Regions from separate parts of the Homo sapiens genome. Here region 1 is linked to region 2. The links come from fine-mapping of genetic effects on gene expression. Tissue or cell type: monocytes. Region 2 holds a variant in brackets; the other region holds the start of a gene. All regions are shown on one strand. Distances are between the middles of the regions.

Region 1 (8,096 bases), 49 kb before region 2:
TTGTTCTGCCTTCTAAAAGAAGCAACTGCTTAAAGGTGAAAAAGAAAAAAAAAATTTTTTTAGTTGCCAGCTTCCATATGGCAGCAAGTTCCAGATGGTTTAAAATAGTGTTCATCCACTCGACAAATACTAACCGAGGGCTTGCTCTGTGCCAGGCACTGAGTTAGGCAGGAATTCAGTCTTTAATTCCACTTTGCTCAATTCAGTGAGCAATACACTGGTGCTCTCCTAGAAGCAAGCCTCGGGGTTGGGTGGTGAATTGTGCAAGAGGGAGGGTGAGAAACAGTCTCTGTTTGGCCAAATTTTAGTCAGGCTTCTGAATCTTCTGTAGGCCCATCTGTGCACTTCTCATAAAAAGTGGTTTTAGTGGGCCAGGCGTGGTGGCTCATGCCTATAATCCCAGCACTTTGCGGGGCTGAGGAGGGCAGATCATGAGGTCAGGAGATCCAGACCATCTTGGCTAACACGGTGAAAACCCATCTCTACTAAAAATACAAAAAAATTAGCCGGCCGTGGTGGCGGGCACCTGTAGTCCCAGCTACTTGGGAGGCTGAGGCAGGAGAATGGCATGAACCCAGGAGGCGGAGCTTGCAGTGAGCTGAGATTGTGCCACTGCACTCCAGCCTGGGCGATAGAGTGAGACTCCGTCTCAAAAAAAAAAAAAAAAAGGAAAGAAAAATTCAAAGTTCAGTTCAATTCAAAAGCAAAAACAATTCAAAAGATTTCCCAGAATAAAGGCAGGCCAGCAGTCTTTTGCCATGTTTACACTTGGGAAATTAGCTTTAGCCCTGCCACCACCACATTTCCTGGGCAGTAAGGGCCCCCACAGGGGCTAGCATGGATATTGATGAAACAGGGACTTCTTTTTTCTTCCTCCTCTATTCACTTACTATGACTTTTAGATTAGCCTGTAAATAGATTCAACACAGGAAACCCTATAATTAATATAGTTTTCAAGTAGGAAAGCAAAAGTGGGGAAGGCAGCCAGGGCAGGTGGCCAGCATTGGTGAGAGCAGTTCCCCAGATTCCTAAGCTGTAGAAAACCCTAAGTCTTTGAGGTCAGAGCCCAGATTCGGTCCCCTTCACAAGACCTCATTTGACCAAAGTCTGACTAACTTCCAGTTTTTTCCATTATTATTGTGGATTTACTCTGAAGGACTCTTTATAAAAATGAAAACCACTTTGGGTTTTTCATACTTGGGATATTTAGGGAGCATTTCTTCCATGTGCTTAGTACTTCATACCTTACAAAATGCTTTCACAGCCTGGATGATTTTTTATTTTCACCAAGGCAGGGATTATTCTTCTCATTCTATGTGTCTTGAAACAAGACTCTGAGGTGTAAATGTCTTTTTCAAGATCACATAGCTAGAAAGTGCCAAAAGTATCCACTCAAATTTGATAATATGCCAGGTGGGCAAAACAGTGGGAAATGGATAGCTCATACACTTATAGTGAGAGTGTAAATTGGCCTAGAATTTCACAAGGGCTTATTGCCAGTATTTATTAAATGTGGATATCCTTTGATCTGCCAGTTCAACTTTAGGGTCTCTGTATTAGCCTGAGTTCCCCCTAGAAAGCAGAGCTCAAAATGAGATTCTGCAGGCAGGAAGCCAGGATTGAGAAGTGAATGAGGGTGAGTCCAGGGCTGGGTAGAGTGAAAAAGCAACACAAGGCTACATTATCAAGCTGGTCACCATTGTGCATAACTAGGACTCGATCCTGCTAGAACCCTGAGCCTTTGAGGATGGAAAGTATCTCATTTATCGCTAGTTCCCTCCCCAGTACCTGGCATGTAGCAGGGACAAGATAATTGGCCACTTAATTATTTAAAATCAGTGCTCTAAAAAGTGTCTGTTTTATGTGGATTCAGCTCAAGTCTCCAGCCTTTCTGTACCTGCAGGCTCTGGGACTTCATTTTAACAGCATAGTCCAGAAAAGGGAATTTAAACTCAGTAGAGACTAGTTTATAAACCAGAAAACCAACGAATTCATTAACCTAAAGAAATAATTGCAAATGAGTTGGCTAGTAATATATTCTCTCCTAGGAGCAGATGTCACCTATGAAACTAAATTAGTGCCAGGCTATTGCTTGGTGAACAAGTAATGACTTTTAGGCTCAATTGGTAAAGCGTGACATAAATTGTGAGATTAGCACTGTATAAGCTGAAAAGGTCTATATAAATGTAAGGTATTATTAACATCACCATATTAGAAAATATGCTGGAGGGAGTATACATAGGGGTTATACCTGCAAGCACTAGAGTCAGAGAGAAAAGGGTTCTACCTCCATCTATGAAACCTTATAGAGGAGTCACTGCACTTCCCTGTGCCTCAGTTTCCTGCTCTGTAAAATAGAAATAATGATAGCCACATGCTTTTTGGAGCTGTTGTAAGAATTAAATTAGACAATGTATGTAAAGTTTTGACACAGTGTGCTGCACTTAATAAGTGCTCAATAAATGTTTGCTAATAGTATTCAGTTCCCTTTCTTCTCAATCACCAACTCTAACGTCAGACAGGTAATAATACAACACTACTACAATTATAAAAATGTAGACCTGGTGGCAGGCAACAGAGGCTCCAGTTTCTGCTAGGCAGTTCTAGGTGGTCATTTTACATACTGGGGAGTCCCAGTTAGAGAAAGGGAGTCAGGCTAGTGGGACCAAGGGATAGCAAGAAGAGCAGATGCACTCTAAGTCTGCCTTTCTTCATGGTGCAGGACACGTAGCCCTCCTGTGCAAATAACTCACAATCTTCCTGCACTCAGCTATCACGAGACACATGCAAGTTAGCTCCCTGTAACCTTGGAGTTCTCGGTACTGCACAGCACTCTGCAGCCCAAGAACCATCGGATAAAATCTCCAGCAAGCCTTTGTTTCCTTGAAGTCAGCTCCTCTCTGGCTGGTCTGCCCATTGCAACCTTTCAACGTATTTTCATACCTTCTCTAATAAATCTGCATTTCTTTACCTAAAACTGTTGATAAATTATTTTCCCACCCATGTAATACCAGTCTCACGTAGTCGCTGCTCACCCAAGAGGCAGACCTGAGCCTTAGTTTACACATTAGAAAAACGTAGACGCCTACCAACATTGTTCATTCATTGATTTCATTCCCTCCTTTTCATACTTATTGAAGGTCCACAATACAGACTTAGACCTAACGCTAACTATGTACTCAAAAACCTGCGTTTCAAATGAGATAATGTATGTGAAAGTTCCCAAAGGCCATTGGCAAGACTCAGAAGACAGTGCTGGTGTGACTCCTGTCTTGCAGTCCCCACGGAGCCCTGTCCCTTTGAGACCTTCCATTTGTCTCCTGGATGCTCGCCTGTTAAGTGGGGCAGAGGAGGCCGTCGTAAATAAGACAAAAGATCAGGCTTCCATTCTGGAAGAAAAGAATAAAAGGAGCTCACTGAGTCCAGACCTAATGGCAGTAAGGGCAGTGGACGCTCACAAAAGCGCTGGGGGACGGGCCCAGAGTTGGGGAGAAAACAGGGATCCCAGCTGCGCACGCGCGCTCTGGTTTTCGACGGGCGCAGAGCCGGACGAGGTGGGAAACCTAACGTCAAAGTCTACGTAGGAAGTCGTAGGGAAGGCAGCGAGGAAGACGCTGGCTCTCGGGTCACGTGATGCGCCGGGAGCGTCATCGCCTCCTCCCTCCCCAAGATGGCGTCCTTGCTGCAGTCGGACCGGGTTCTCTATCTAGTCCAGGGAGAAAAGAAGGTTCGGGCCCCGCTCTCGCAACTCTACTTCTGCCGCTATTGTAGCGAACTGCGGTCGCTGGAATGTGTGTCTCACGAGGTAACAGAGTCGCCCTATAGCGAGTATGTGGGGTGGGGGGGGCGCGGCGTTCATGCTAGTCACTGCCACCGGAAGGCTGGAGCTATTTTCCTTCCTTACTGATTGGTTATGTCTTCCGTCACTCGGGTTTGCCTGCGATTTAATTTGCTTCTAATCTGTCACTTGGAAAGGAGGAGCAGCCTCGGGTGGGACTGAGCGGATCTTCTGGTTCTAGAGCGGCCTCTGATTGGACAAACTTGACTTAGGGACCGTGTCTGTCTGCGATGGGGCTTGGTAATTGGGTGGACTACGGAGAAAGGTCTGGGGGTGCTTAGTTCAGGCCACTTAAGGGGCGAAAAACTGCCTTTCCAGGATTTATTGCGAGGATGGAGGGAGGCGCAGGCGTTCTCATTCATAGTTCTCCCATCCTGAAAGTTCTGTTCCTCTTTTGTCCAGAAACTGGGCCCTCGTCAGACTGCCTTGCCCTGTTCCTGACTCAGGCCAAGGCCTGCAGCCGGGAAGAGGTTGGGGCGGCGTGAGTTATGTGAAAAGCGCTCAGAATACAGTATGTCATGTAAGAAGCTGAAAGTGTATTTATGGAGCTAGAGGACAATGCTGTCCTTCCCTGGCACAAGTGGGCGTCCGAAGTTGGATTTTTCAAAAAGAAGACCCCGGCCAGTAAAAAGTCACCAAATAACAAAACCCCAAAACTTCTGCAGCGCTTGGCACATCTTGTTTATTCAGTAAGCTTTAGGGATTAAAAGGCGAGTAAGACATAAAATGCGCTGTTTAATAAGCCATAGTCTTAGTGAAGAAAAAGCTGATAGTAGTAATAGTTGCTGCTTATTCGATACTTGCTATATGTCATGTGCTTTATGTAATCTTCAAACCAATTTAAGTGGATACTTTTTTTAAAAAATTTTTTTTACAGGTAAAGAAACAGATACAGAGTGTTCGCTGTAAGTCACACAGCCAGTAATTTGGGGGTGGGAAGGAGGACCTGGATTTGAATCTAAACAGCCTAACTCAGAGTGTTTTTTACTGAAGATCCCGGGACTGTTAAAATAAATGCATATGAAAACACATACTATAAGCCATTTTATGTGTTATTAATAACTTATTTTATTGAAGATACTTTTCATAATAGGAATAGTCAAGAAAAGCAATTAAATAATACAAGAAAAATCGTATATATTAAAAATATGGCATCGATTTTTCTTCTCATCTCCATTAGCACTTTCCTTATGTGTATCTCCTTGATGATTCCCTATTCCAGCTCCACCTCCAGAATTTATTGGATCATATTCTCCTGTGGTGAATAGAGTGCTCAGTCTCCATGATCTGTCTCTAAGACTCTCTTCAATTAGGACATCCAGTCTGTGACAGCATCTTTTACAGCCTGATGTGTACCTGTGATATGGAGGCCATTAGAGTTTAGGGAAAGATGAAGCTCTGAGGGCTGGGGCAGGCAGTGAAGTTCTAATGGAGAATCTGGGTCTGGAGCTGCACATGAACGGACAAGCAGAATTTGGAAAGGGGGCAAAAAGGAATGACTTGTATTTTGCCTTTTTTGATGAGTCAGTGCAGAGGTTAGTTAGCAATATTGTATTTTATGTTCCTGGAGATTATTTGAGCAACAACTTTATTAATCTTTTCAAATTGACCTGTTTATAGCAGATGATGAAAAAAGCCAGTTTCTATCATAGTATTTATGTTCCAGTGATTGTCTTTTCATTTGCAGGTGACTAGAGTTCTATAATTGTCAAATAGGACCTACATTAAAGAAAATAATTATTCAGACTTTTAAAAAATAAAATGAACTTAAATTTTAGACTCCAGTTTTTTAAGTACAATAAGACTGTCCCATTAATTTGTTTAAAAATCTCTAATTGGTTGGCCATAGCTGACTATGTAAATAAATATTTATGCTTGCCTTCAGTCAACCTGTATTACTTCAATAATGAGAAATCTTTAAAAAAATGTCCTTCAAAACCTAAAAGTATGGTCAAGTTTTATAGTCATATAAAGCTAGCCTAGACAGGAGGATATTTTATCACAATGTTACAAATTGGATTATTTTATTAATCTCTTTATTAATCATAGAATTCTATGGAGTTCAACTGGAAATTGTAGATTGTTAAATAAACAACTTTTAACACATAAAACCCTGATGATGGAATAGGAAAGATCAGAAAAATAGAAGGATTTTTTAAATCCGGAAGAAGAAGAAAAAAAAAAAACAGGTGACTGAAGAAGAATAAACCCTAAGCAGAAAACAGTCTACTTTCTGCTACAGTATAACATATTTTAAAATTCACTATTTGACAAGACATATACACAAGTTAAACTGAGTTCTCCTCTGGTTTTTTTTTTCTTTCTTGTTTCCTCCTAGGTGGACTCCCATTATTGTCCCAGTTGTTTAGAAAATATGCCATCGGCTGAAGCCAAACTAAAAAAGAATAGGTAAGACCTGGACTGATTTTTTTTTTCTTCCTATTTTCCTTGACTGTTCTCTAAAATAGCTAGTTAAAAAGACACATGGGCCAGGCATGGTGGCTCACGCCTGTAATCCCAGCACTTTGGGAGGCGGAGGCAGGGATCACGAGGTCAAGAGGTTGATACCATCCTGGCTAACATGGCGAAACCCCATCTCTACTAAAAATACAAAAAATTAGCTAGGTGTGGTGGCACGCGCCTGTAGTCCCAGCTACTTGGGAGGCTGAGGCAGATGAATTGCTTGAACCTGGGAGGCAGACATTGCAGTGAGCCAAGATTGTGCCACTGCACTCCAGCCTGGGCAACAGAGCAAGTCTTTGTCTCAAAAAAAAAAAAAAAAAAAAGACACATGAAATTAACTTTTTTAACCAGCTCTTTTTCATTTTTAAGCATCACCATTGCCAAAGATGAAATCCCCTTTGATTTTTGAAATAGATTTTCTACTTTAGAACAGTTTTGTACTTCAGAATTATGGTGAAGATAGTATGGAGAGTTCCCATTTACCTCACATCCAGTCTCCCCTATTGTTAACTTTTTACATTAGTGTGGTATATTTGTTACAATTAATGAACCAATACACTACATTTTATTCAGATTTCCTTAGTTTTTCTGTGGTCTCCTTTTTTTCCAGGATTCTTTTCAGGATATCACATTATATTTATAGTTATGTCTCTAGACTCCTCTTGGGTGTGGTGTGATAGGAGAATCTTAAAATTTCCTTGGTTTTGATGACCTCAAAAGTATTGAGGAGTACTGGTGAGGTATTTTATAGAATGTCATTTCATTAGGATTTGCATGATGTTTTTTTCTCATCAGACTAGGGGAATGTATTTTGCGGAGGAGAACCACAGAGGTAAAGTGCCATCTTTGATTACATCATATCAAGGGTAAATACTTATGACTTGTCACTGTTGGTGTTAACCTTGATTATCTGGCTTGAGCTAGTGTTTGTCAGGTTTCTCCACTGTAAAGTTACTGCTTTTCCTTCTTTTTTTGTACTCTACTTTTTGGAAGGAAAATTACTGTCACAGCCCATAAAGACTAGAGAATTATGCTCCCCTGTCCTTGAGGACTATCTGCATAAATTATTTGGATTTGGAATTCTTTTGCATGGAAGATCTGTCTCTTCTCCTCTTGTTTATTTGTTTTTTAAATCACTTACTTATAGGACAGTGGGATTATGAATATTCATTTTATATTTTGGCTTGTAATCCAATACTACTTTATTTATTTTGCTCAAATTATTTCAGCTTTGGCCATTGGGAGCTCTTTCAGTTGACTCCTAGATCCCTTTGACATACCCCCATCATTAGGAGCAGGAGAGAGTTCTCTGTTCATTACTTTGATCATTTTCTTACCAGTACTACAAGATACTCCAGACTCATCTTGTGTGTATGTTTTGTGTGTATTTTTTTTTTTTTGAGACAGGGTCTCACTTTGGCGCCTAGGTTGAAGTGCAGTGGTGCAATCTTGGCTCACTGCAACCTCAACCTCCCAGGCTCAAGCAGTCCTTCCACCTCAGCCTCCTGAGTAGCTGAGACTAGGCACATGCTACCACACCTGGATAATTTTTGTATTTTTTTGGAGAGATAGGCTTTTGCCATGTTGCCCAGGCTGGTCTTGAACTCCTGGCTCAAGCACTTCACCTGCCTTGGCCCAAAGTGCTGGGATTACAAGCGTGAGCTGCTGTGCCCAGCCTCATCTTGTATATTTTCTGTCTCAGTCTTAGAGTTGTTTCTCCAAGGAGCCTTGGTTCACTTTATTGGAGAATAGTCTTAGAAACCAAGATATGGCTGCTAGGCTTGCTCATTGCTAC
Region 2 (8,093 bases):
TGCAATGGCGTGATCTCCTGCTCACTGCAACCTCCACCTCCCGAGTTCAAGCAGTTCTCCTGCCTCAGCCTCCTGAGGAGCTTGTATTACAGGCAAGCGCCACCACGCCTGGCCAATTTTTGTATTTTTAGTAGAGATGGGGTTTTGCCATGTTGCCCAGGCTGGTCTTGAACTCCTGACCTAAAGTGATCCACCCGACTTGGTCTCCCAAAGTGCTGGGATTACAGGCGTGAGCCACCATGCCTGGCCCATTTACGGTTTTTTGACAGAATGATCAAAAGCTTTCTCAACAAGATATTAGAGAGAAGAGATAACAAGGTGGGTTAGAAAAATAAAGTGAAGCCAGGTGTGGTGGCTGATGCCTGTAATCCCAGCACTTTGGGAGGCTGAGGCAGGCAGATCACTTGAGGTCAGGAGTTTGAGACCAGCCTGGCCAACATGGCGAAATCCTGTCTCTACTAAAAATACAAAAATTAGCCAGGCGTGGTGGCACGTGCCTGTAATCCCAGCTTCTTGGGAGGCTGAGATGGGAGAATCACTTGAACCCTAGGGGCGGGGGTTGCAGTGAACTCAGATCACGCCACTACACTCCAGCCTGGGCAACAGAGCCAGACTCCGTCTCAAAAAAAAAAAAAAAAGAAAAGAAAAGAAAAATAAAGTGAAGGCAAAGGTGAGATTAGTTTAGTGATACCAAACGTGGGTTAACTTCAGAAAGCACCAGGTCAAGTGTTGTTTTGTTTTGTTGTTCGATAGCATTCCAGACCCTAACCCCAGAGGATTTTTTTTAGCAGGTCTAGCTAGGGACCAGAAATCCAAATTTGTTTTGGAAAAGCTTCCCAGGTATCAGTGGTTGCCTGGGAAATTAAGGATAAAAAGAAAGACTGATGTTTTTCTTTTTACCATTTTAAACTGTTTGAATTATTTTTTACATGACTCATACAAATCAAAGGTCTGGTTAGTTACTGTAATACAAAATGTGCTGAGTTGTACAGTACAAAATGTGTTCTCTCAAATCCTTGCTTTATGTGGGTCCTCAAATTAATTAGGTACAGAAATTTGTTAAGCCAAGATATACTTCTGGAATGATTGTCTGAGATATCAGATTTCAGCCTGATTACATGATAGAGTAATTAAAAACTGAATTAATTATATTTTACATTATTAGATTTAATAGAACTTTCAGATTTCTGGAAACTAACACTGTATAAATATGTAAATATGTAATCCCAGTAACCTTTCTTAGAGTAACTGAATGTCATTTGGGTAGTAGACAAATTCTGTTTATTTCATTGCCCTTTTACTTTCAGAAACTAAGTTATTAAAGCACAAACTGTATGCACAAATGAGGGGAAATTGAAATGCAAACCTCAATGAAGAGACATTTTTGTGCTAAAATTCCTAATTACATAAGTTATTTACAAAAACATTCTTGATTTATGGTGTTCCAAAATTTCCCTTAAAGCACTGAGTTATTAAAACTTCCCACAGTATGGCCAGGCATGGTGGCTCATGCCTATAATCCCAGCACTTTGGGAGGCCAAGGCAGAAGGATCATTTGAGCTTAGGAGGTCAAGGCTACCATGAACTATGATCGTGCCACTGCTCTCCAGCCTGGGTAACAGAGCAAAACCTTGTCTCTAAAAAATAAAAATAAGGCCGGGTGCATTGGCTTATGCTTGTGATCCCAGCACTTTGGGAGGCTGAGGCGGGTGGATCACCTGAGATCAGGAGTTCGAGACCAGTCTGACCAATGTGGTGAAACCCCATCTCTACTAAAATTATAAAAATTAGCTGGGCGTGATGGTGTGCACCTGTAATCCCAGCTACTCAGGAGGCCGAGGCAGGAGAATCGCTGGAACCCAGGAGGCGGAGGTTGCGGTGAGCCAAGATTGCGCCACTGCACTCCAGCCTGGGTGACAGAGCGAGACTCCATCTCAAAAAAATAAATAAATAAATAACTTTCCACGGTATGAGTCTATGTTCTATAGAAATATTGCATTTGCACAGAGGTAAATGTAAAGGGATGTTTGCAGCACCATTGTTTATAATAGAGAAAAGTTGTCAGCAACCTCAGTATATGCCAATTATGGTAAACACATAATTGAATACTGTGCAACCATTACATAGATTGTAGATGATCTGTATATACCAGCGTCAAAAGGTGTTTGTGATAAACAGAGTTAAAAAAAAGCAAGTTATGGAATAGTGTGTACCATCTGTGTTGGTTAGAAAAGCAGAAAAGTATAAGCTCATAGAAAAATATATGGCCAACGTGTTGGCTTATGCCCGTAATCCCAGCACTTTTGGAGGCCAAGGCAAGCAGATCACCTGAGCCCTGGTGTTCGAGACCAGCCTGGGCAACGTGGCGAAACCCCATCTCCACCAAAAAATATACGTATTAATATATAAAGCTAGCCAGGTGTGGTGGTGCATGCCTGTAGTCCCAGCTACTCGGGAGGCTGAGATGGGAGAGTTACTTGAGCCCGTGAAACAGAGGTTGCAGTGACCCAAGGTGGAGCCATTGCACTCCAGCCTGGGCGACAGAGCGAGACTGTGTCTCAAAACAAAACAAAAAAATACTTGGTAGGTTAAGAACAAAGTGTTTATAGGTTTTCTGTGTGTGCTGAAGGAAAGAATAAGGTGAAAGACTTTTACTGTAAGTCTTAGTGGTTTGGCTGATTTTTTTATCTACCTAATACTTGCTTTTTTTTCTTTCCATAGCATTATAGCCTTCAGAAAGGCCAACAAAGTGGGTATTTTCATCAAAGTTACACCACAGCGTGAGGAGGGTGAAGTGACCGTGTGCTTCAAGATGAAGCATGATTTTAAAAACCTGGCAGCCCCCATTCGCCCCATTGAAGAAAGTGACCAGGGAACAGAAGTCATCTGGCTCACCCAGCATGTGGAACTTAGCTTGGGCCCACTTCTTCCTTAAAAGGTTCCACTGGAGGGCAGATCCCAAAGGACAGTATCACCGTAAACCTGCGTTAAAATGTGGAAGCTGCTGCTTCATTAGGCCTTGTTTATAACGATGTACCCATGCACTACGGAATTCTATTGCTAAGAAAGTGGGAGCATAGGCAAGGCATTGGGAACACAGGGTAGCTGCTGTTGCTCTTGCTCTCACCCCTGTTGACACCAGTAAGTCTGTGTCTCCCTCACTGAACCCTGCACGTTGAGTAACAGCAGCATAATTCCATCCTAGGAAAGGGGATGGGTGTTCCTTGGAATGGCATTGTATTTACCACCTGAGAAACTCTGTACTGTCTCTTGATCTGATCTCACTAAGGATCACAATGTCACAGATGAAACTTAAATGATAACCCAAAGGTAGACCTGCTGTTAATGATCCAGCATTGGTCACAATGTACCAACTGCTTTCTGCATTCCGTTAAATATCATCTAACAGTCTAAAACATATCCCTTCATTGCCATAATGGCTGCCATTTTGCCATAGATTTCCATATAACTGAAAAACTGA[A/C]TTGTCACTTTATCTTTAGTATCATGATGATTGGAAAAACCTGTGAAGTTGTTAAGGCACTCTCATTTGCCCTCTTTTTCTAAGTGAATACAGGACACGTATTAGTTGTTCTTAATTTTTTTCCCAGTAAAATATGGATCTTTTAAGAAGAATTTGAGAAGCAAACAATTACATGTCATGTCAAGGGGGTAGCAGATTCCATTCGTTTTCAATATTGCCACAATACCCAGGGATTAATGCTGCCACAGGGGGGCAATCTTTATTTGTCTTACTTCCTACCCCTTCCCTGTTCTGCCTCTTTAACTCAGTTAAGTTGTTCTGTTTGGGACCTGGAAAAGAACCCAAAGAAAACCTGAGTGGACAGGTTCATTTCTGGAATGCAGAAAACATTTTAAAGGCTAGATTTTTAGAATATTCTCAACTAGCATTCTTTCCATTGATTTGAAGGGGAAATTAACTATTATAATCTCTTGAATCCAAAACTGGATATTAAGAACTTTCCCCCTTACTAAGTTTAAGACTTTTGTCATGTGGTGAGTCAAATAAGACCATTTTGATTGTAAACCATAAAATAGTTCAGCAAGTAGCCCACAGTTCTGGCCTAACAGCAGACTTGCTGTTTTCACTTGGTATCCTGGAGTTGGGTTGCTAACCTTAATTTCTATGATGTTTTCTAAAATGAAACTTGATAAAGTAGACCACCAGCTGCACCGTGTTTTCTGTAAAAGTATTGTTAGTAAGTGGCCAAGAGACTTGAGGAAAATACAGATTTTTTGTTTACCTTGGTCTTGTTTTAAGTCTTAAAAAATTAAAGATAACATTATAATGTAGAATACAGATGGGACATAGTCCTTGTAAGCTTCCCTTGAAAATGTTTTAAATATTTAGGAAGCTTTTAAAAGACACTAAATTGTACTCTAAAAGACACTAAATTGTACTAATTGTACAAAGGTCAAGCCAATTTTATGAAACAGTCCTACAGAGTAATATATGTGATGCAGTGTAAGAAGGAAAATACTCATCTCTAACATTATGGTAATAACATTTAGCCTCTTAGGAGTTGGAGCAGGGGGATGGGTAATTACAGATTTGCAGACTATAGAAAGAGTTTCATTTTTTTGTGACCCCACAGAGTCTCAAATTTTTATTTCACTACCTGCTAGAGCCTACTGTGAAATCACTGCTCCATATTTGCCAGTGGAGGAAATGGGCATAGAGTAGAGAATAGCTTCATATGTTTACACGTTTGCATAGACTACACACATGTCATGCGTTTATGGCAGGTAGCTGGTATTTATTCCCCAAAGTAATAATGTTGAAGTATGGGTCTCATCATTCCCATACACAGAAACACAAAACACTTTGATCATAAACTTTTTTCTTCAGAAGCCAAACTAACTTGCAGAATAATAGAGCCACTGGTTTAATGTTTCCTCAAGATAGGTTTTAGTGTAAGCTAGTATTCTGTGTGTTCGTAGAAATGATTCAATACCTGCAGCTGGTGAATTAGGAATTGTATTTGTTGCCTTTTTTATATTAGATGAGGTGCAAAAATTTTAATGCTAGTCAGTATGCACCACCACAGGAAAGTTAGATCCCATTAGCACTTGAAACTACAGCTTTGGAAACTTAGGCTAAGTTAATTTGGATTTGTTACTTGATTCACCTACTGACCTTTTCTTTTGTTTGAAGTGCTTATCAGCATAATGAGCTAAGTGTCATGCATATTTGTGAAGAAACACCCTTTTTGGTCCCTTTTGGGACAGAGAGGTACTCCTTGATCTTTATGAATGACAGGTTACTGTTTTGCCTTATTGCTTAACTTAATGTAGTGAAATAAAGCAGACAAAGCTTGAGCGTGTCTTTTGTTTGCTCTCATGTAGATACTAAGTAGCATGGCTCAGAGCCAAAAGACAAGCGTGAAGTTAAGAGAGTTGGCTAAGAGAGTTGGTGGGGCATGCTCCCTTCCATTCCTTAAATGAAGTAATCTAAAATCTCTTAGCAGGTTAGTTCACCATAATATATAAGTAGATGTTGCTTTGAGCTTCTTATATACATATTCACAGAACCATTATATAAATGTTGTTAGACCTCTACCAGTTTTTATCCTGGGTCATTGCTTCTAAAGATATCCTTTACAATATACACAGTGGTCTGACTCCACCAGTGGCCACTCATCACCTTCATCTGTACCTTCATAACTGTTCCTTCCCTCCTCTTACTTAGATGAATTATTCATACTCTTCCTGTTGGAACCCAGCCCCACCTCTTAACACTGAAGCTCATCCTCTTACCTATTCACAGATAGCATCGGCAGCTCCCTCCTTCCCTTTTCCATTAGCATGTGATTTCTCTCATCTTAAAAAAGAAATTGGCCTCACTCTCCTCTTCAGCTGCCACTCCATTTCTCCACTCCCTGTACAGCAAAACTCCTCTAACTCTGACTGGGCATGATCGCTCACACCTGTAATCCCAGCGCTTTAGGAGGCCGAGGTGAGAGGATGATTTGAGGCCAGGAGTTTGAGACAAGACTGGAAAACCTAACAAGACCTTGTCTCTGTTTAAGTAAAAGTTTTTTAAAAAACAAAAATGGCCAGGTGCGGTGGCTCACACCTGTAATCCCAGCACTTTGGGAGGCTGAGGCGGGCAGATCACGAGGTCAGGAGATCGAGACCATCCTGGCTAACAAGGTGAAATCCCGTCTCTACTAAAAATAATAAAAAAAATTAGCCGGGCCTGGTGGCAGGTGCCTGTAGTCCCAGCTACTCTCGAGGCTGAGGCAGGAGAATGGCGTGAACCTGGGAGGCGGAGCTTGCAGTGAGCCAAGATCACGCCACGGCACTCCAGCCTGGGCAGCAGAGCGAGACTCCGTCTCAAGGGAAAAAAAAAAAAAAAAACCCTAATTCAACCTTCCAGTTCCTCCATTCTCACCTGAACCCATTCCAGTTAGACTCTCACCGCCACCACTTGGTCGAAACTGCTCTTGTCAAGGTCACCAGCAATCACCACACTTAAATACAGGGTCAGTTCTCAGTCCTTAACTATGCAATTTTTCAGTAGATCTGACAGTTTATCTCTCCCTTCTTGAAAGGCTTTGCTTGGTTTCCAGAACACAACACTCCTGGTTTTGAGGCAGAGCAGGGACCCCCTTTTAGGAGGCTTGTGGGCCCCTCCATGCATGGAAATAAAGGGAAATCTTGAGTTCCTTCAAGGGAATTCTAGGCACCTAGCTAGCCCAAAGAAGTTAATGAGCAACCTGATAAGCAAGAAGTAGCTGAACACAATAGCCAAGGAAGTCAGAGTGAGATGTTTTGTTCCCTATAGAAACTAAGGGTAACATACATGTCCCCAACTTTTCAGAAACCTGAACTCTCACCAGCTTTAAACCTCAGATAAGGGGAAACTGAGAACTGAACTCTGACCACTGTTCATTGTTCTAAGTTGCTTCCTGAGGGGCCTGGAGGAAGTCATGTCCACCGGCCAGAGCTAACATTCTTTTCTGTGGATCCCAAGTTTAGACAGCTTCACCGCCTTAATCATAAATCAAAAAATCTTTGAAACCACCTATGACCTTTGAGTCCACCCCCATCCCAGCTTTGAGATGTCCCACCTTTTTAGGTCAAACCAATGTATAGCCTCTATGTATTGATTTATGACTTTGCCTGTAACCTCTCTTTCCCTGCCTTTAAAAACCCGTAGCTTTAAGCCATCTGGGAGTTCGGGTCTTAAGCATGATCTGTGCAATTCTCCTTGCATGGTGCCCTGCAATAAAATGCCTCACTTTCTCTTGCTACTAGCCTGATGTCAATGGCTTTGTGGCACTGGGTGAGCAGACCCCAGTTTAATTCAGTAACAATTTTCTGTCTACCCTGCTAGAAAGTTTCCTTCCGTATTCTTTGCTAGTTCTTTCCCATCTTCCCAACCTTGCAGTATACCAAATCTCATTTCTCACACTTCTTTCCTCTTTACACTCATTTAATGAACTTGCCCAGTTTTGGGGGGCAAGAATGCCGAGAAAAGATCTATTCCTAAGGCCCACACAGGGCCTGCTGAGGACTGAGGCTGAATTGAATTAGAACAACAGAGAACCCCTTTACTTCTACCCCGCTACCAGCCTACCAAGCAGCTAGTAACAAGCATCCATTTCTAGGGGATGGGCAAAGGCCTAGAAAGTTAGTCACCACTGTGCAGGTAGGCAGGACAGCTGTAAGCTGAGGATGAAGCATGAACACTTGAGTTCTTCAGCCCCAACCTACAGTATAGAATAATGCTAGAGTAGGTGAAATCTGTGGTACATTGAAAGCAACCATAGCAATAAAACCCAAGCCCAGGTCAGGTGCGGTGGCTCAAGCCTGTAATCTCAGCACTTTGGGAGGCTGAGGCAGGTGGATCACCTGAGGTCAGGAGTTTGAGACCAGCCTGACCAACATGGAGAAACCCCATGTCTACTAAAAATATAAAATTAGTCGGGTGTGGTGTTGCATGCCTGTAATCCCAGCTACTCAGGAGGCTGAAGCTGGAGAATCGCTTGAACCCAGGAGCTGGAGGTTGTGGTGAGCCAAGATCGCACTATTGCACTCCAGTGTAGGCAACAAAAGCAAAACTCCATCTC

The links. PIP is the estimated chance that this variant, and not a neighbour inherited with it, causes the effect.
Region 1: DCTN4 starts here. The variant in region 2 is fine-mapped to the expression of DCTN4 in monocytes (TOPMed, PIP above 0.99). The same link has a PIP of 0.9 or more in blood mononuclear cells and whole blood.

Annotation. Positions count from the first base shown.
Region 1 is chr5:150,754,568-150,762,663 of GRCh38, reverse strand. It overlaps DCTN4 (dynactin subunit 4), which reads left to right and starts at 3,647. Exons shown (of 13, transcript NM_016221.4): 1 at 3,647-3,805; 2 at 6,177-6,247. The coding sequence starts at 3,671. RefSeq lists enhancers at 3,572-3,871, 4,302-4,371.
Region 2 is chr5:150,705,991-150,714,083 of GRCh38, reverse strand. DCTN4 (dynactin subunit 4) reads left to right here. Exons shown (of 13, transcript NM_016221.4): 13 at 2,722-5,644. The coding sequence ends at 2,935. Among named protein-coding and RNA genes, the nearest start is that of RBM22, 9.0 kb to the right of the region's middle. The variant A/C (reference allele first, on the strand shown) is at 3,482.